Homo sapiens: one gene and its partners. The protein of the gene in region 1 purifies or fractionates together with the protein of each later gene. This does not show direct contact. Each region holds a gene or a part of one and is shown in the gene's direction. Other genes may lie near its edges.

Region 1 (8,817 bases):
CCAATCTCTTCATTTTACATTTGACAGAGGATAAATAAGGCTCAGAGAACCTTGCTCTGTTGGTTAATGCAAGGCTGGAATTAGGACACAGAAAATTTTAGTCCTACATTTCATTGTAAGGACATTATCACTTAGAAGAAGTGTACTTCTTTTTTATGTAGATCTATTCCTACATTAGCCCTGTTATGATTATCAGATATATTTCATTAATTAGTATATCACAAAATAGTATGTTTTATAATTGTATTTTGAGGTAAGCATTAATTAATGATTGTCACTTGGTTAACACCAGTCTATTAACTTTTGAAAGATAACAAATCTATGTGTTATTTTGAATACTTTTAATGTTCGCAGTTAAATTATGAATTGCAGGGAAGTCATTGAAATAGTAGTTAAAGACATAAATTTTTAAAGAAAATAACCCTTTTAATTTTTAATCAATAGAAGGATTTTTAAGTTGTAATCTGCCATATTGAATAGAAATATATCACTAAAAATATTTTTCTTGTTAGTTCTCCACTGTTTGTCTCTATCAAAACATTAAATACGGAATTTTCCAAAGAAAGTTTCTATGATTTGAAATAAAATATGAAAAACAAAAGGCTTAACAATTTCTCTATAATGTGCTCAACTAAAGATACATCTACTTTTTAAAATTCTGAATACAAAAAATCATTTAAACTTCATGGATATTTTTATATTCATGGGTAAGAATTTTGGAAACAGTGGTAAATATTTTCAAAATGACATAGATTTTACTTTTCCAGTCCTCATTTTAATTGAATTCCTAAAGATTCTATTTCTAAATAGTCATGAACCAAAGATTTGTCCAGCTTGGAATACAGCTGTATCTTCAATAATAAAGCTGATCAAGTCTTTTTGCACAATTGACATACACTGTTGTTTTAACATTTTTATGTTTTAGAAACAGAAGTTTAATATTAATACTTTTATTATGCAACATTAAAGTCTAATTGCTTTTATGATTTTTATAATAAAGAGGGCCAAAGCAAAGTAGATAATACCAAGTCACTGAAGAATAAAAATAAATAATGCCTTAGATTATTCAAAGAAGCCCAATTTCTTTTTTTTCTTTCTTTCTTTTTTTTGTTTGAGACAGGGTCCCACTCTGTCACCCAGGCTGGAGTACAGCGGCACAATCATGGCTCACTGCAGCCTCGACCTTCTGGTCTCAAGTGATCCTCCCACCTCAGCCTCCCAAAGTGCCTGGATTACAAGTGTGAGCCACCAAATTTGGCCAAGAACCCCAACTTCTATTATGTAGTCTTCTCTCTTCTACAGCAACACTCAAGAGGGTCAGAATGAAATGTACAACACTTTTACAAAGCACACCCAGAATCTACGGGTTACCTCAGTGCCTCATCCCAGATTTTGATATGGATTTTTAAGTTGACTTTTCATCACCCATTAATTTTTTCAAACTCACACTGGGAATAGAACATATTTTATTACTGCAATATGTTGACTCTTTACACCCTTTGTAGGAATTTGTGTTACTTATAAAGAATATAACTGTAAACAAAGATGACAAGGTATTTTTCTCACCAAAAACATTTTTTCTGTACTGAGTGGTTCTTGAACAAAGGAAGCTTACTTGACCTACCTAATGTGTAAGGAATTAGGTACAGAAGCTGGTTAGGTAAGGCAAAGAATGAGGATGAGAAATTTACTTATCAGGGGTTTAGAGCGGTCATTAGAAAAGCCTCTACTTCCCAGACTGGTTTGTCCTGCTCAGTGAAGAGTGTTTTATTCCAACATCCTCTTTCCCTAACAGGCATTTAAAATAATGAGAGAATTTTTTAAAACAAGATATTTACAGTAAATAAAAACCTGTCACCACAAAGTGGGGAAAGTTGCTGACATTTTCCTGGGCATAGGATATGCTCATTGAATATGGCACCAAGCCTGCTTCCTTCAGTGAATCCATTTTATCAGCAATTAGGACTGTTGTTTCACTTAAATGGAGAATTCCATTATGACTCCTCAGCAACCTTAACAGATAGAAAGCTTTTTGTAATATTGCTAACTACACAGGAGGAAAGTAGTTATAAACTCCCTTTTGTGCTGTGGTGGATAGTCAGTGGAAAAAAAATCACCTTAAAATATTTCTCAGGACATGTTGGCCTATACCTCATTTGAATTCACGCATCTTTAAAATAAAATCTGTGCCTGGCGCCGTGGCTCACGCCTGTAATCCCAGCACTTTGGGAGGCCAAGGTGGGTGGATCACCTGAGGTCGGGAGTTTGAGACTGGCCTGACCAATATGGAGAAACCCCGTCTCTACTATAAATACAGAATTAGCCGGGCATGGTGGCGCATGCCTGTAATCCCACCTACTCGGGAGGCTGAGGCAGGAGAATCGTTTGAACCTAGGAGGCGGAGGTTGCAGTGAGCCGAGAATGCGCCACTGCACTCCAGCCTGGGCAACAAGAGTGAAACTCCATCTCAAAATAAAATAAAATAAAATAAAATAAAATAAAATAAAATAAATCTTATTTTTATTTTTAAAATAAAATCTTTATTTTATAATAAAAAATTTAAAATTTTTTAAATGAAAATTTTAAATAAAACATTTTTTAAATAAAAAATTTAAAGAAAATAAAAAGATTTCATTTTCTTTAAAATAAAATCTGGCTGTCCAATTGTTATTTCTTCGGTTGCTTTTCAAGAAAGTGTGAAGTCAAAAAGTAATTTTAAAAGGTAGGACTCTTCAATCTGCTTGAACAACAACAACTAGATAGTCTTAAATAAGTTCCTTTTATTTATTCTTACGTTGGTATTTTAAGTTAAATATTATACCAATAAGAATAGCTAGTTACGAAACAGCAGGAAATTCCACATATTTATTTAAAAAATAGACATGTTTTTAAAATCTCATTAATGACTTTGTAAATTGTAATACCTACCTTTGGTAAGGGTGCAATGAAATAAACACCCATAGGTACTAGTGGACATGGCATAAACTGCTACTATCTTTCAGAAAAGGCAATTTCATAATATACATCAAAACCCTAACATGTTTGACCCTTTGCTTCAGAAATTGAACTTTTAGGAATTTAGCCTGATGGAATGTATAATTAAAGAAATGGACAAATACTTGTGTGCAAATGTGTTTGTCATGACATTATCTGTAATACAAAAAAGCTGGAAAAAACATAAATCTACAATAACTGGGAATTGGTTAATGAAATAGTAGGCTATTCATACAATAGATTGCCACATAGGCATCAAGAAATATCCTATTTGAAATTAGTATATACAAACAAAGAAAAAATGTTAAGTTGTTATCTCTCAGTCCAGATGTCTTATTTTCTTTACTCTTTTCTGTATTTTCCAAATTTCCTTCAGTGAACATCTTCAGTTAAGAGGCCTTAAAAGTTCATTTGCTAGTATTATGCTGAAAAGTTCTTTTTTAAAAAATAAAACTACAGTTCAGCACAAGTGAAATTTAATGCTCTTTTTACTATCATTGTATCTTTCGAATATCTGCACCATTATTTGCCTTCCATATGTATTAAAATATGGAAAGAGCCAAAAGAGACATGTAATTCAAGCTCCCCTTTCTTCCCAAATGAAATTCCCCCAAATAAGACCACCATATTTTCAATTTATTAGGCACTTCCGCTTAACTTCTCTTCATAATTATAAGGAGTTCTTTTGAAGTTTATATGTCCTTGTCTTTGTGTTTGATCTGTCTCTTCACTGTGCTGTAGGGACACATCTTCCGCCTTTAAATTCCATCAATCTCCCTTCACCTCCCGCTTCTCCTGTGTCCTAGACAGTGTGTATAATTCTTTGCTCTTCAGCGTATTCAATATAAAGAAGGTAGCATATAAAACAGTTACATAATGCAAGCTTTATTCGTAGTTAGAAAATCATTATCAAAATGTTACCATTGCAATCATTTCCATAGACTGTCACGTAACCAACACCTGCAATGGGGAAGTGGTACACAATCCAACACAACTCATTAGGGGCTCTCAGTCTATTCAATCTCTGACACTCCAGCAGCCTCAGTACCACTTCAGGAGCCAATGCAGTCTACCTCTCTCCAGAGAGCAGTGTTCCACCTTTCTGGGACAGAAGTCAACAATCGCGTTCCCCAAGAGATGGAAAAGAAGTGGAGGAGGGTGAACAGGTTACCAAACCCACTTAGATACACTCCGCATAGACTAACTCTCCAAATTAAAGGACAGGAGGTCACCTGAGCTGACCATAAAAGCTCAGAGTGCTGATGCGAATAAGATCAGGGAAGGCTGCTTATTAACACCGTGGTCACTACAAAAGTTCTTGAGGGCATCTGCTGTGAGTTTTCCATCGTTCCTTATTGTCCTCCTGCATCTCCTGTTGCTTTTCTTGGCCCTCTCCTTTTCGCATTTTCTATGTCCTTTGCCCAGCAGTAGTACTGCAGGCATAAACCATTGTCGACCTGAGAATTAAATTAGCATTTGGTAGCCAGACCTCTCCTTGAGCCTTAGAATGCTTGTGTGCTTGAGGTCCCTGAAGTGTAACGTCATCTCAAAGCGCAAGTAACTAAAGGGAACCTACATGTGACAAGGTGCAGCGGAGGTTCAAGCAGAGCACCCTGGCCGCATCGCAACAGATTATAAAGTGTAGGGGATGAAAATGATGGAAGACATCAGAAAGCCGAGCTGTAAAAAAGCCCAAACTAAGCAAACTGAGACGCGCAAGCGCGTTGCTCACAGCTCGTCTCCCGAGGCCGAGCCACAGCGCCTGCGCACAGAATCCGGGGAGGGTGGGGAAGAGATGAGCACCCAGGCCTGGAGCTCCCACTGCCTCAGCCTCCCTATCCCCGCAAGCTCCGCCTCCTCCAGCTGCTCGCCTTCCCAAACAACCGGGTTCGCCGCCGGCGCTTTCTGCCCATTGGCCCTTAGCCTTTTCCGTTTCCGCCCAGCCCTCAAAATCCACCAATCAGTTTGCACTTTTGGGTGAGGGTCCACCTCCAAGGCTGTCGCTCCGGTTCCTCTGCCTCCTCTGGCTGCTGCCTCCGCAGCTCCCTCCTCCTACCCCACCTCCTCCATCTGGGGAGCGTCTGCGGGGGCCTGAGGGGCGGCGGCGGCGGCGGCGGCTGCGATATGGAGCCAGGGGCCGGCGGCCGAAATACTGCTCGTGCGCAGAGGGCCGGGTCCCCGAACACTCCGCCGCCCCGGGAGCAGGAGCGGAAACTGGAGCAGGAGAAGCTCTCCGGTGTGGTGAAGAGCGTCCACCGGCGGCTCCGCAAGAAGTACCGAGAAGGTAAACAGCGCGCTGAGTGAGGGAGGAAGGGGAGGCCTCATCACCCCCAACCGCTTGTCACCTCTTCCCTCCTCCAAAGAGGCCACCATTAAAATGTAAAGGATCTGCACGTCCCCCCAGCCGCTGCTGCTCTCCCGGGCCTGGTCTGAGCCCCCTAGTCGGCATCAGACGCGCTCCTCCCCGCCCCCTTTTCTTTGAGGGCCCTTCGGGAGAGTTCTAGGCCTGTAAAGGAATTGAGTCCCCACCCCCTCCAAGCCCCTGTCCCCAGCCGGGGTGCTGAGGTTGTTGTCTCGGCACACACAAACACATACACGCTCACAGAGGAGGTGGGGGTCGCTTTTTGCAAGAGACGCCGAGGTAAAACAAGACAGGTAAAATCCATTTGTAAAAGACGAAAAGAAACCTGAGTTGTCCCTCCTTTACGCTTGACCTACCGGCTGTACCATTTGCTTCCTTATCAGACCCCCTTCCTAGTACTTCATTCCTACAACCATGCCGAGCCTTCCTCGCATTGGCTTCCAGGGCTGGGAAGCCAGCAGGCCTTTTAGCTGACTGGACTTCACATTGTTAAAAGGGGGCGGGCTACACTCGTGGCCCCCACTCCCATTTCTTAAATACTTGGTCTTAACTGTTTATTTAGGCGATGAGGAAGAGATCTGGGCAGGTTCTGAAAATACCGTTTGTATTGGAAGCCTCCTAAAGACACCTGCCGATAAAGCCCACCCTCGGCTTCCATGGATGGGGTTCCGGTGAGAACCCCCTCTGTGGAAGCTCATAGGGGAAGAAGCCTTAGTGGCTTTTGCCTGTGCCTGAAGAGTGTTTATAGTTGGAGTCTACAGTTATCCTTGATATCTTTAAATATAGGCTTTTGTACACAGCTGTTTTATAAGATTTTGACAGTGAAAATTCTGTTTTCATAGGCTTGGGAGAGAGACTTCTCCTGAGTATCGAAATGAGGAAAGCTTTCCACTGGTTCTCATTTTAGCTTAATTGCAAACTGAAAAGTCAGCAGCCTTCTGGTGTTAGTCCTATACTTAGTTAATAATTTAGGATTAGAAGGAAAATTATGGCAGTGAAGGAATACAGACAGGTAAGATCATGTTACTGTTGATTTATACACACGTTTCAACTACTCTAGAAAGTTAAAACTAAGTATCCTTTGTTCTTTTGAATGTAGTTGATATGTTTCATTTTTCAAACTTTAAAGGTTTCTTTCCTTAGCAAATCAAGCTTAGCTTTTAATAGAGGCTGTTTAATCATCCCCAAATGGGGCTTGTAGTTATTGTTTAACAGATAGCAATAGAAAGAGTCTTATCAGACCTACTTAGGATGGTAAAATATGTTTTTTGAAAGAATGCTACCCAAACCCACAATTTAGTCAATAAAATGAGTAGTTACCATAGCAACAACTGCATCATTCTTGATATTCAAAGAATGCTCTTACATAATGGAATTCACTGTAGATTTTATGTTATTTGGAGAGATTAGGAAATAAATGGACACATTTTCCTGCAATTTATCCTGCTATTTTGTACAAATTTAAGTGCATCTTTCTAAAGAGAAAAATGACTAGCATAGAATTCCATTTCTATTTTTACCTTTTAATAATTTCATTATTCATTTATTCATAAATGAATAGGTTCCACTCAAATTAACACACTAATGTGGCATCTCTTCAAGTGCTGTTTATATGTGCTTAGTTCCCACATGTTTAACCATGTTTTAAGCCTGAGTATTAACCACAGGAACTCTTGTTTATGAGAATCGGAAGTTACCAGATCTAGAATAGATACATGGAGTTCATAAGTGAATGATCTAGTATGCTTCTGGGGAGTTAAAGTCCTGGCAGTTTAAACATTTGAATGAGACTATTCTTTAGGCGCTTTAATACCCTGAATTTCACCGGTGATCTAGACTTCTCTAGGCTTTGCTTGAATGATATACAAAGCCCCATCAGTGAATTAGCAGAATAAGTGATCCTAATGAGCATGCTCCTTCTACCTTTATTTCTGACATATAGGCTAAATATTAGTAGTAAAAAAGTCATCTGTGAAAAACTCTGTGCACATAATAATACTAAGGAAATAATTTTTAGTGTTTTACTTTGAGGACTTAGTATTGTGCTGATGGTCCCCAGTCTGTAAACATATTTTACAAGTTCATTTGCAAGTCAGCTGTTATTGTAATCTGAAGATTGCTTAAGTGCTAGATCAGTCTGCAAAGGCCCATTGAATCAATAACATACCTGAACTATAGCACCAATAACTATGGAAACTGTACCCCTTTTATCACAATTCTTCTACCAGCAAATGCAGTGAAAATTCCAGCTTAGGATCTTGGAGTTTTAGACTAGAAGGAACCTCTTAGCATTTAGCAGTGATTCCCAAACATGGCTGATCAGCAGATTCAACTGGGTGCCTCTTAGACAATTCCTGTATTCTACCTCAGATCTATAGTTTAAGATCCCTATTATTAGGAACTGGAAATTGTCAGCCAGATATTAGAGTGGTGATCTAATAGCTTCTTCATTTTACAGATAAGTGAGCGGAGTCCTAAAAATATTAAAATAACTTTCTTGATGCTTTGGTAGTTCATTATTAATACTATACATATTTTATGGGAATAATATAGGTTCCCCACCCCCAACTCCAAACCTAATATTAGTGACTCCAAATGTTAGAATAGGAGGGAAAATGAGAAGCAGGAAGTGGCCCTAGAATTTCCATTAGGTGAAAAGTTATAAATTGATGGGAATGGATGATCCATAGGATAGGTATGATTAGCTGAGTTGGGGCTATACAAGGTGAGGGTTTTTTGGGGAGAGATGGCAGGGAAGGAAATAAGTTAGGGTAGAATAAGGAGGCAAAACAGCCATTGAATATTAAGGACAGGATAGATAGTGACTGGGAGGTTGGAGAACAGAGCCTTCTTTTCCCTTATCTCTATTAGTGGAATTGAAAATAAAACAGGAAAAACAATGAAAATAAGTTGTGTTGTTCTTTTTTGCTGTGATAAGAAAAGATTTTTTTCCACTCTTCTCCAACCATTTGCCCAACTGATGCTAGTTGATGGTGATGAACAGGCTTGGGGTGGGGAAGGGTGAACAGGGTTGTAAAGAGTAGCAGGTAGGCTTAATGCACTCTTTTCGTTTACCACTTTTTCCTTCCCCAGTTTATGGCCTGCCTTGTTTCACCACTTAAGAGATGCTGTGCCAATTTGTCTAAAGGTAAAGTGAGAACTGGAGATAAAGGTGTGTTCCAGGCAGCACTCGTATCTGAAGCAGTTACTAAAAAGAAATGGTAGGGAGATGCCTAGCAGTGGTGATGCGAAGGGGTATTTCTGGTGTCTGCCATTGATAGTTAAGAGACAGTCTTTTAAAGTGAGGTTATATTCATAAGATATTCATAAGATAGGTTTTTCACTATCTAGTGAATAGATCCATATTTATAAATGGAAATATGCTTGCACATATAGGTGTTTTCTGTCTTTGCATACATAATTTTTAAAATTTGACCTCCATGTAAACCAAAAATATTTTA
Region 2 (4,761 bases), on another chromosome or scaffold:
GTCCATCTCAGAAAGAGCTAAAAAAGTGTCCATCTTCCTCAGCCCCTAGGCTGTGACCTACAGCTCCTCCTTCATCTTCCTCAGCCCCTAGGCTGTGACCTACAGCTCCTCCTTCATCTTCCTCAGCCCCTAGGCTGTGACCTACCGCTCCTCCTTCATCTTCCTCAGCCCCTAGGCTGTGACCTACAGCTCCTCCTTCATCTTCCTTGGGGCAGGTGGAGATGATTATATCCCCTCCCCTGCCCTTACTGCGTTTCTGTCTTGCATTCTCCCTGAGTGGACAGTCAGGTGGCCAGGAACCATGTGGTTAAATTGCCTTTTTGTTCTTTCCTGGTGACCTAAGGAAGAAATGAGGTAAAAAAAAATTACTCTGGTAAAAAAAAATCAGGCTGATCCATGCTGAGGAAATCAGTAGCCTTAATTAGAAAGTAGAGAGAAAGCAGGCTGGGTGTGGTGGCTCACGCCTGTAATCCCAGCAGTTTGGGAGGCCGAAGCAGGCGGATCACCTGAGGTCAGCAGTTCAAGACCAGCCTGGCCAAAATGGTGAAACCCCGTCTCTACTAAAAATACAAAAATTAACTGGTCATGGTGGCGCGTGCCTGTAATCCTAGCTACTTGGGAGGCTGGAAGCACAAGAATTGCTTGAACCCGGGAGGTGGAGGTTGCGGTGAGCCAAGATTGTACCACTGCAGTCCAGCCTGGATGACAGAGCAAGAGTAGAGAGGATTTTGCAAAGGCAAAATCCAGAGCCAATCCTCATCATATAATCAGCCTGTAGACAGGGAGCTTACAGTGCATAGTAGCCTACCCATTTAGTTTGCATATTTGACTTCATGTATTCTTTGGTAAAAAATTATGGAATGCAGATTATGTAGAGGATACAACACAGCACCTCCCCAAGGAACTCAGTCCAGGAAAGAAGACAGGCATTTTCCCTTCTTTAGTTCTGCCTACATCACTGTCTCCATTATATAAACCCCTCAGACTTAGAGGGCAGGAGCCACATCTGTTACCACGTCCTTTACAGCTCTTAGCAGGTAGAACTGTAATAAATGTGCCTTATGGAAATAGAAAAACCAGGAATAGAACAAGCCATAGATGAAAAATGGCTCCTCCTGCCCATTTCCAGAGCACAGGGAAGCAGAGAGCCCCAGCTTGGCGTTCCTCTTTTTTTTTCTTTTTGAGATGGAGTCTCGCCCTGTCACCCAGGCTGGAGTGCAATGGCATGATCTTAGCTCACTGCAGCCTCCGCCTCCCGGATTCAAGTGATTCTCCTGGCTAATTCCAGAACAATCCTGGCTAATACAAAAATTAGCCAGGCATGGTGGCACATGCCTGTAATCCCAGCTACTCAGGAGACTGAGGCGGAGAATCACTTGAACCCAGGAGGCAGAGGTTGCAGTGAGCCGAGATCATGCCATTGCACTCCAGTCTGGGCAACAGTGCGAGATTCCCTCTCACCAAAAAAAAAGATAAGGACCTTCCCTGGAGGAATGGATAGCCTCGAGTATGCGGGTGGGTATGTGTGGCCTGTCAAGACATGAGGTAGATTCCAGTGAGAGGCCCAGGATGGGATGGGGGAGAACGCTCAGTGGGAAGGTCTGCTGGGATGGGTAGGGAACATGGTAGGAGGGACGGGCTGTCTGAGCAGAGATGAAGGCTGGATGAAGAGTGCAGCCGGTGGGAAGGCTTTCTTTCACTATGGTGGTAGTGACATGGTGGACCACGGAGATGACGGGCTGCTGGGTGTGAGGAGGTCTGGTAAGCCATGGTGTTGGAAGAGGTAGAGGTCAGAAAGTGGTGAGGGTGAGGACAAAAATAAGCAGCCTGCATGTGCAATCTGGAAAGAGATCTTTCCAGATCTCTGTGTCTCAGGCTGTCCGAGAGTCCTATCAGCTACATTCTCTTCCCTTGCCCCTTTAACTAAGGAGGCGCTGATTAGCATGTCTTCCTGTCCTTCCCTAGGTTTGGGTTTGTACAAGATAAATATTCTGCCTCTGCTTTTAACTTCCCTGCTGAGAACAAGCCTCAGTATATCCACGTTACAGGTGAGGAGCTACGGGCAGAGTTGGGCAGGTGGGTCCACATCCCTTTCCTTGCACCAAGCCTATGGCTGCAGAACCACCTCAGCAGGCTCCAGGAGCCCTCCTGGTGGCTGCCACACAGGCGCTCCCCTTTCTCTTCAGGAACAGTGTTTCTGCAGCTGCCCTACTCCAAGCGCAAGTTCTCAGGGCAGCAGCGGCGGCGGCGGAACTCCACCAGCTCCACCAACCAGAACATGTTCTGCGAGGAGCGGGTCGGCTACAACTGGGCCTACAACACCATGCTCACCAAAACATGGCGCTCCAGCGCCACAGGGGATGAAAAGTTTGCTGATCGGCTGCTGAAGGACTTCACGGACTTCTGCATCAACCGTGACAACCGGCTGGTCACGTTCTGGACAAGTTGCCTGGAGAAGATGCATGCCAGTGCCCCGTGAGGCCAGGCTGCACCTGTGCTGGGGGAAGGTGGGTGAGCCACTGCCCTCAAACCCGGGGCGGAGGATTCCAGGCAGGCTCTAGGAGTCAGGTGTCCGTTTGCTGCTATCAGTGAGTGGGGGCCATTGTTTTTTGTTTGTTTGTTTGTTTGTTTGTTTGTTTTTGGCCCCCACGACAAGTCTTCTACTCTAGAAGAAAGACTTTGGAAGCAGCTGCTGCTGCTGCCACCACTCCTGTCAGCAAGTGCTCAGAGCAGGTGGGAGGCACAGATTGTCCGTGGGAGGGCTCCAGTGTCTGGGAAGAGGGCAGGCGGCCCCCATGAATGTCCTCGGAAGGGGGTGGCTCCTGGTAGCATCCTTTTCCTTCACCATCTATGGGATATTAGGGGCAGAATCTGCCACTTCTTGCCCAGGAGTGTGCACAGATGTAAGATAATTTTGTGAAATAATGTACCATAGACTCTCACCAACTGTATATACCTGTACATATCAGAAGCAAATAAAGAGCTCCACGTGCATCATTTCTTTCCCCACCCAGTTCCCCACAGAAGCAGTCCCATCCTGGGCTGGGCAGTTGTGCCAGGTGGCCGGGGTCATGGCAGTCAATGAAGTGGTCACAGATGGTGAGAGGGCTTCAGAATTCACTGGCTTAGAGTCTGGCTGGGAGTTTATTGAGAGATTTCTTTCATAGGCCACTGGGCAGGAGCAAGGATGGTTCCAGTGAGGACAGTGAGCAGGCAGTATAACTTACAAGGTAACTGCAGGCTCATGCTGTCAGAATGAATCTTGCTAAATGGGTGAGCTCAGCTCTGGGACGCAGATATGATGGCATTCTGAAAAAAATCAAAGGAAACATTTTGTAGACTCTAACTTAGGTTTTTTTTGTTGTTGTTTTTTTTGTTGTTTTTTTTGACACAGTTTTCACTCTTGTTGCCCAGGCTGGAGTGCAATGGTGTGATCTCAGCTCACTACAACCTCTGCCTCCTGGGTTCAAGCGATTCTCCTGTCTCGGCCTCCCGAGTAGCTGGGATTACAGGCACCTGCCACCATACCAGGCTAATTTTTTGTATTTTAAGTAGAGATGGGGTTTCACCATGTTGGCCAGGCTGGTCTTGAACTCCTCACCTCAGGCGATCCACCCACCTCAGCCTCCCAAAGTGCTGGGATTACAGGTGTGAGCCACCATGCCCGGCCTAACTTAGATTTGCTGAGATAAGACTCAGCTTGGTGCTTCACCTCAGCACCCTGCCTTAAGCTACTCAGGGCAGTTCAGGAGCTGTGGGTCAGAGGGGAGAATCCGACAGTGACTGCCACTTCTTGCTGTGCCATCTCACCACGTGGAGTTCATCACAAGCTCTGTTGATTTGCCTCCTCAATGGCTTTGCATCCATTCTCTTCTTCCCAGGCCCTGAGCTGCCACTCAGTCCAGCCTTCCTTTGTCTTTCTCTTAGATCCCCAGGAAAACCTTCTAATTTGTCTCTGCTTTCACTCCACTTGTCAGTCAGTCTTTTTATAAAACCACTGTGATTTTGCCCACCACTTAACTAGAACTTTTTGGTGACTTGAACTTCAAAAATCTTAGATGCAGCCCACATGGTCCTGCACAGTCTGGTCTGGTGGGCTGTTTGTACAGCCACCCTGGCCATCACACAGTCCCTGGAACATCACAAACTCTGCACCAGCTCAGACGCTTTGCACTTGCTGTTCCCTCTGTTCCATCTGCCTGGAACATGCCTCCCTCCATGCCCGCTCTGTCTCACTAACTCCTGGTGGTCAGCCATCAGCTCTTAGCTCAACTGTCACTTCTCCAGAGAAGCAGAGTTGGCCCTGTTACATCCTCCCACAGCACTTTGTACTTCTCCAGCATGGTACTCAACATGTTTACACTCTACCATGGCAGAAGCTTCTTTTTTTTTCTTTCTTTCTTTTTTTTTTTTTTTTTTTTTTGAGACATAGTCCGGCTCTGTCACCCAGGCTGGAATACAGTGGTGCGATCTCAGCTCACTGCAAGCTCCGCCTCCAGGTTCATGCCATTCTCCTGCCTCAGCCTCCCGAGTAGCTGGGACTATAGGCGCCCGCCACCATGCCCGGCTAATTTTTTGTATTTTTAGTAGAGACGGGGTTTCACCGTGTTAGCCAGGATGGTCTCGATCTCTTGACCTTGTGATCCACCCGCCTCGGCCTTCCAAAGTGCTGGGATTACAGGCGTGAGCCACCGTGCCCAGCCAAAGCTTCTCTATTTTGTTCATCTTTTTGTTCCCAAGTGTACATGATAATAGTAGATG
Region 3 (7,612 bases), on another chromosome or scaffold:
AGTGGACTCTTTCAAAATGAAAACTCACATTTTCAGTTCTGGGAAATGTCCTTGAAGAATCTGGTTACTTCCTTGTTTGGTTTGTTTTTCCTGGACTATCTGGAACTCCTATTATTTGGAAGTTGAACCATCTGGATTTGTCCTTTATCTTCTTTCTCCAGTTATCTACTATTTTAGTTTTCTGCTCTATTCTCTGGATGATTTCTTTCAACTTTATTTTCCAACACTTCTATTAAGATTTTCATTTCTATTACCATCTCCATTTGCAAGAATTCCTGATCATCTAAATACTTTGCACCTTGTTCCTGTATCATTTGTACCATATCTTCTCTCATCTAAGGATACTAATGATAATTTAGGGGGATGTGTTTATCTTACATAGTCTATCCAAGTTGCTATTTTTATTTCTTTCATGTTAGAAGTTTCTTTCATCCTTTGTTCTGTTCATATTTAAGTGTGGGACACTAATAAAGGTAACAATATAGGCAATAACTGTTTGACTTTGGACTTCACTGTAGGGTCATCTGGCCAGACTATTTAGTTGAGAAACCCACAATGTCAGTGTCTTTCAGTCTTTCCTCTTGGCTCTATCAGATTCCCTAGAGAATAATCTTTCAAACTCCAACCTGAGTTGGAGTTCCAACCCCACGATCAGCTGTTGGAAGTGAAGAAGCAAGGCTGGGAGTCTCGACACTCAGTATGTAAGCATTTAGTTTACATTCAGTCACAGCATTCAGCATGTAAACAATCAGTTTACCCCTTCCTTCAGGTACAAAGACCTGCCCCAATTATTCTTGGAAATCTTCTATTTTACTCTTTCTAATGAAGAAATCTCTACTCTCCTCTTCTGGTAGGGAAGGAGTGTTTGCCCAGTTACCCACAGTGGAGTAGGGGATCTGGGGCTTTTGTTTCTTCAACAGATTTTCAACTGAAAGTTTTTTTTAGCCCTACCTGAAGTTCTGCAAGTACCTGTGCCTATTCCTGAGCCTTTTGGGGGATTCTTGCAATAAACTGGGTTGCGAGCTTAAGATTAAACTTCTCTGAATCTATTAAATCAGTTACCTTCACCCATCCCTTCTCTAGTTTCCAAATTGTTACTATAATCAAGTACAGGGACCCACCCCTCCCTATCAGTTATTAATACGAACCCTTTATATTTTCAATGGGAGTTTCTTTTAAAAAATTCCTTTACTGTCACTTTAGTGAGGTTGGGTAGAAAGTGATGGCAGATCCATCACAGGAATTTGCTATCCTTACCTTGATGCTCCCTTCAATCTTTAAATAATCTGAGAAGCATGGATGGCAACCCCCTTTTACAGATGAGGGAAACGGTTTGGGTTAATCAACTGCCCAAAATCAGCTAACTGGCAAGTGGTATTCTGAGCTGGGTTTCTGAGCCAGGATTTGATACCAGGTTTTCTAATCTCAAAGCCTCTCCAATTTTTCCACATGCTTATAACTATATTCCATAACACATAATTTTACGGTTACTTGTGTTTTTTAATATCCCACCTCCATGTAGTCTCTCAAACTGAAGCAAAAGTCAGGTGCTTTATATTTCTTTTGTATCTCTTGAAGCAATTAAAATGGTGTTGAACACATACATATCCCTTTCCTATAACCTTTTGTACTTTATCATAATTCAATAACCTGTACTTTATCAATAATAACACTGTACTTTATCATAATTCTTATCACCTGTACTGCAATGGCATGTTTACTTTTCTATTTATCTCACACTCATCTGGTAAGCTCTAGAGGGAAAAGACCATGTCTACTTTATATTCACAGTGTCTGCACACAATAAGTACTCAATACAAAGTAAATAATATTGTCAAGGAGGACTGGAGACAAAAATGTACTCAGTAAATATTTGCTGTATGAACAATTCAAAAAATTAAAGCTGAACTTTATTAAAATTCCATATATCAGTGAACAGCTTTGGGTATCAAACTGCCATCTCCTGTATAGCAATTTTAATAAAGTCAATGGTGCAAATCAGATAGAAAATACTACATATTTAGACTTGAGTTCTGAAAGTTTTGTTATAATTACAATGTCAAGGGATCATCTCATATTAAATAATGTCTGAAAGACAACTTAAATTCATGACCCATATTCCTCTGCTTTTCATTCTGGAGGGAAAATTTCAAAGTCTTCATTTGTAAAATTTTAAAATGTTTTAAAAATGTCAAATAGTTTCCACTTATTCTGATTAGAGATGTCAGTTCATGCTTATTTAATCTCTAAAAATTCTGGACCATTAACCGTTCATATTTGGCAACACAGTTAAAACAGTGCACCCTAAGACTTCTACTGCGGCTTTATATATCACAAACTAAAACCTTTTTTAAAAATCAAAACTGTTATGCTCTTTAAAGGAAAAAAGCAACAATAAAATCTTCCTTATCTACTTTAACACTATACAATTTTTAGCTACACGACTTAATTGTTTTTACTGGGGAGACGGTTCATGAGAATTTTACATTAAGACAAATCTAATGCAAGACAGGCCTTATTATTTACTACCAAGGCATGAACCTGAGGTGGCTCTCTAAGCCTCAATTTTCTCACTTATATAATGGGGGTAAAATAGTAGCAATCTCATAGGGTTTTGGTGGGAGGAGACAATGCATGTAAAGTGCTTACACAGTGAAAGCTCAATAACTGCTTGCTACTAAATGCACCTAGCAATAAAATCTTGTATAAGGCTTGCCATGTACAAGCGCTACTCTAAGACCTTTATACATACTGATTTTTTCAATCCCCACAACTATGACAGAGATAGATATTACTATTATCTTCATTGTACAGGTGAGAAGCTGAAGCGGAAAGTTTCACAACTTGCCAAAGGTTAGGCAGTTACGAAGAGAGTAGTTAGATTTGAATTGCAATCAGTCTGGCGGTAGAGTCCTTACCCTTAACCATTGCACTATATTCCATCTGCTGAATTGATAAGCTTTGTTAGGAAAGAAGAAAAGAGAGGCCTGGGCAGTCTTGGTAATGTCGAATGGTTTGAGATGTTAAGGAGCACCCGAATATCTCAGAATAGAGCTAACCCCGCTCTCCCCCGCCCCGACCCCATTTAAGATGCATTGATAAGCCTTTAATGAAACTCAAAGTTTACCTTAGCAGGTTTAATATTTGATCTCATCTTCTGAAAGTTCTTACTATCAGTCTTATACACAGCGAGGCGGACTAATTAAGAGGCAAGGGTGATAGGAAACTGGACACACGTCCTCAGCAGGCACAGGAGCAGCACCATATGGCTGACTCACTGGAGGTTTTTAAAAAAGAGAAAGAATATCTTCCGATCAGTACTAAGATGTGGCCTTGCCCATTTGGGAACAGGATTCGCAGACCAAGAAAAGGGTGGCGGGCGTCCCCATGAGCGGGACGTGGGAAGCGCCTCACTTCTGACCTCACGGAGCCTGACCTCGTCCCCCGCGCCTGCCTCCGACCGGCGACGCAGGTTACCTGTAGGGATTCGAATCCACCACCTCTGAGCTCATCTTCTCGATGCGGACCCGGCCGCCCCCTCCGTCGCCGCTCCTCGGGACCTGCAGACTCCTCTCCTGGGCAAGTTCCCGCTCCAGCTCCTGGACCCGCTGCTGCAGGCGCTCCACAGACTCCGCCATGGCTGGGACTCCGGCCGCCAACGCTCCCAGCCCGGGCCTTCGCCGCCGCCTTCGCCCCACGTTGCTCGGCTGGGCCCGCGAGGGGTACGTGGGGAGGCACCTCGCCGCTGCCTTCCTAGCCCAGAGCCCTGGGGACGTGCACCCAGCGCCTCACAGACAGACACGTCTCCGAGACTCCCACAGGCCTTCCTCGGAGCCGCTTCCGGTGCGTCGCAGACATCGCTCCCCCTCATCAAAAACCTGGCTCTTTCGGCTTCCTTCCTCGCTGGGCCGGCTAAACCCGGCCGCAGCAGCACCGGGGTGATAAGTGTCCAGGGCAGGAGGCCAGCGATGTTGCCTTGCTAACCGGGTATCTAAGAGAAACAGGGTCTTTTTATTCTTAGGCTCGACAGTCTGACGGCCCTTTTTCTGAACGGGACCCTGCAGGTCTTCCGCCTGCTGTTGCATTAAATTTGGGGGTGGAAGAGGCTTCTGCGTTGTTCCTTACCCGCAACGATGACCATGGCTTTGCCTTCTTTAAAATTGAGGCCTCCAACTCTGACGCTGACTGGAGAATTGAAACCCGAACACACATTGGGCTCTTTTGGCACTTGACTAGAGCTAAAACCTCGGGATTCAGCGGGCAAGCGTTGCTCAGCAACGGCGCGTAGGCTGTGTGCGGTTGGCTGGAGCCAGACCCCACCCCGGCCTCGGCCCATGCTCTAGAGGGGACGTTGCCCCAATCCTGAAGGACTTCGGCACTCGAGACCTGTGGATGCCGCGTTGCTGTGGCCTGCGGGGGTGATCATGAAGCCAGGTGCTACTGGCGAGTCCGATTTGGCCGAAGTGCTGCCCCAGCACAAGTTCGACAGCAAGTCCCTGGAGGCCTACCTAAACCAGCACTTGTCTGGCTTTGGGGCCGAACGTGAGGCTACGCTGACCATTGCCCAGTACAGGTATGGATGTCAGCCTTTGCCTCCAGCGGAAAAAAATTTGTACATTGAGTTTTCCTTCCTTTGGCCCTGGGTGGTTTCCTAAGTTTCTCCCACCCTGATTGCTTTTCCTGCAGTCAGTGGACGCACCCTACAGGCATGAGCTGCTATTGCCGGCCCTCCGAATTCGATGCTGGGGGCTTCCCAATTGGAGGGCGGTAATGGAAGCGCAATAACGTTCACCATTCTACTATCCAAAGGAATCTTTGTTAAAGGATGGATTTATGTCCCTTGAGGATTCACCAAGGCAATTAAGGCTACAAATTCTGAGAAATAGATGCCTTCTTTTGTGATACAGCCATTAGATCTTTTTCTGAGAAGCTGGTGTAATTCCGTTTGATTGGCCGTATTCCGGGAGGCTGAGTTAATGACACCAGATGGAGGATCCGAATTCGAGTACTAGCTTTTCCACTTAGGAGGTCACAGCACCACTTTGGGCCTCAGGTTTTTTGAAGTGAGGTAATGGAACTGAGTGAGAGGATCCTGAGAGTAGCGTTCCCCACCGGGAATCTGGCTTTAGTCTGATGTTTTACAATAGATAATACATTCTTAAAACTTTATTCTAAAAATAACATTGTTACTAATACAGGGCTACAGAAAGAGTCCTATCATTCAGAAAACTGGATCTGTCACTTGCTGTCTGGGAGTTTAAATATGTTACATAAACACTCTGAGAACTAGTTTCCTAAGTTGTAATACCTATTTTGATTAGTCTTATTAATGAAATGAAATACCGTAATATAGGTGAAAGGGCGTAAAAATTGCAACAACATAGTGTGCTAGTGGTATTTTATCACTAGCATTTATATTCTTTGACTACTGATTTTGGTGAAAATGAAAATAATAATAAATGAGATGGATCAGGGAACATTTTAGGGTGTAGAATTTAAAGGTCCCATGTCCCAATAGATATTGGAAGATGAAGGGAAAGGTGGAATAAAGAATAGCTGAGATTTCTAGGCTAGAAGCCTTGTGTTGTAACAAACTGAAACAGATCAAAGTTCAAATTTCAACTATTTCAATTGCTGTGGAATTTGGACAAGTTACCCTTTGAACATCTAGTCCTGCTTTGGCAAAAAGGAGATAGTAACGTTCATATTGTAGGAGTGTTGAAGAGGTACATAACTGAAAGATACTTAATTCTGAACCAAGCTGAATGTTAAACCATAACCGTGTTCAAAAAATGAAATTAGTTGTAAATTAGTTGTGGTATAAAAATTGCTTCCAGAAATGTTGTATAAGCTTGGTTTAATAAATATATATGGAACTCTGGATCCCACAGAGAACACACATTCATTTCTAGGACACATGAAAAAGTTTATAAAAATTGAAAACACATAGGCCATGAAGGAAGTCTCAGAAACTCAAAAGAATCAATCTTTATATTTTGAAAATGTGTGTTTTGGCCAGGTGCAGTGACTCACACTTGTAATCCCAGCACTTTGGGAGGCCGAGGCACGTGGATCACTTGAGGTCAGGAGTTCAAGACCAGCCTGGCCAACATGGTGAAACCCCCATCTCTACTAAAGATACAAAAATTAGCCGGGCGTGGTGGCACGTGCCTGTAGTCCCAGCTACTTGGGATGCTGAGGCAGGAGAATCGCTTGAACCAGGAGAGGGAGGTTGCAGTGAGCCAAGATTGCACCACCATGCTCCAGCCTAGGTGACAGAGTGAGACTCAAAAAAAAAAAAAAAAAAAAGGAATATGTGTTTTTTTAATACCAAAAGTTTAACAGAAGATAGCTAACAAATACATGTTTATAAATTAAGTGATTCATGGATTAAAGAGCCAATAATCTACATAGACAGTAAAAGACTATCAAAGTTCAGTGTACAGAAATCAACTGCATTTCTCTACTTTAGCAACAGTTAAAATGTAATTTTCAAAAACTTACAGGAGCATCAAAAATATAAATTACCTAAGTAAAAGATGTGCAATACCTTTGTAGAGAAATGATAAAACTTTTATTAGGACCTTAAAAAGAATTTTAAAAATTGAGAGATGCCATGTTGTTGAATAGGAATATTCAATATTGCAAACTTTTTTCTTCCAGTTGATCTATTGATTCAAAGCAATGACAATCAAAATCCTAATTTTTTTCTCTAATTTGAAAAAGTGCTCCTAAATTTTATGTGTAAGAGCGAAGGGCTAAGGATAGCAGAAACATTTTTAAAGAACCACAAGGTGGGAAATTTGAGTTAAGATGGTATGATATTAGCACAGAGATAGACAGACCAATAAAATAGAACAGAGAGTTCACAGAAAGACCCACATATTTATAGAAGTTTGATAAGTGACAATGTTGGCACTGAGAGTCAGTGGGGGGAAAAGAAGAACTTTTCAAGAAGTTATACTGGAATAATTGTTATCTGTATGAAGAAATAGAAATTAGACTCTTTATCTCACACAGTTCCAGGTAGATAAAAGAACTGAATGTTAAACTATAAATGTTTGGAAGATGTGTAAGTTATATTTTTGACTTTAGAGAAGAAAATATTTTAAAGACAACAGCAGAAACCACAAAGGAAATGACTGATAAATTTTCATTAAAAGACTTAAAGTGAAAAGACAGAAGAAAATATTTTCAGTGCATATAATGGTTAAAATATTCAGAATATAACTATAATAGCTCACCAGAAAAATGGGCGAAAACTTGATGATGCTCAACTTTATTATACTGTAGTAATAAGGGAAATGCAAATTAAAAAAAAAAAAACAACACAATGAGAAACCATTTCACACCACCAAATTGACTTTTAAAAAATCTGACAATAGACTGGGTGCAGTGGCTCATGCCTGTAATCCCAGCACTTTGGGAGGCTGAAGCAGGTGGATCACCAGAGGTCGAGTTCGAGACCAGCCTGGCCAACATGGTGAAACCCCGTCTCTACTAAAAATACGAAATTAGCTGGGTGTGGTGGTGGGTACCTGTAAATCCCAGCTACTCGGGAGGCTGAGGCAGGAGAATTGCTTGAACCTGGGAGGCAGAGGCTTTAGTGAGC

What was found. The genes of interacting proteins can lie anywhere in the genome.
Region 2: the proteins of SAMTOR (region 1) and DEPDC5 purify together in Homo sapiens (co-immunoprecipitation; 3 studies listed by BioGRID and IntAct, with this or other methods). This does not show direct contact.
Region 3: the proteins of SAMTOR (region 1) and ACAD11 purify together in Homo sapiens (affinity purification with mass spectrometry; 2 studies listed by BioGRID and IntAct, with this or other methods). This does not show direct contact.

The regions. Positions count from the first base shown.
Region 1 is NC_000007.14:112,936,052-112,944,868, reverse strand, and holds the start of SAMTOR (S-adenosylmethionine sensor upstream of mTORC1), read left to right. Parts: upstream 1-4,993; 5' UTR 4,994-5,118; coding exon 5,119-5,278; intron 5,279-8,817. UniProt on the Homo sapiens protein: S-adenosyl-L-methionine-binding protein that acts as an inhibitor of mTORC1 signaling via interaction with the GATOR1 and KICSTOR complexes.
Region 2 is NC_000022.11:31,904,019-31,908,779, forward strand, and holds the end of DEPDC5 (GATOR1 complex protein DEPDC5), read left to right. Parts: intron 1-1,965; coding exon 1,966-2,048; intron 2,049-2,186; coding exon 2,187-2,479; 3' UTR 2,480-4,015; downstream 4,016-4,761. UniProt on the Homo sapiens protein: As a component of the GATOR1 complex functions as an inhibitor of the amino acid-sensing branch of the mTORC1 pathway.
Region 3 is NC_000003.12:132,656,564-132,664,175, reverse strand, and holds the start of ACAD11 (acyl-CoA dehydrogenase family member 11), read left to right. Parts: upstream 1-4,366; 5' UTR 4,367-4,424; coding exon 4,425-4,573; exon of another isoform or gene 4,574-4,679; intron 4,680-7,612. Other genes in the region: UBA5 (ubiquitin-like modifier-activating enzyme 5), read right to left, coding at 3,478-3,638. UniProt on the Homo sapiens protein: Acyl-CoA dehydrogenase, that exhibits maximal activity towards saturated C22-CoA.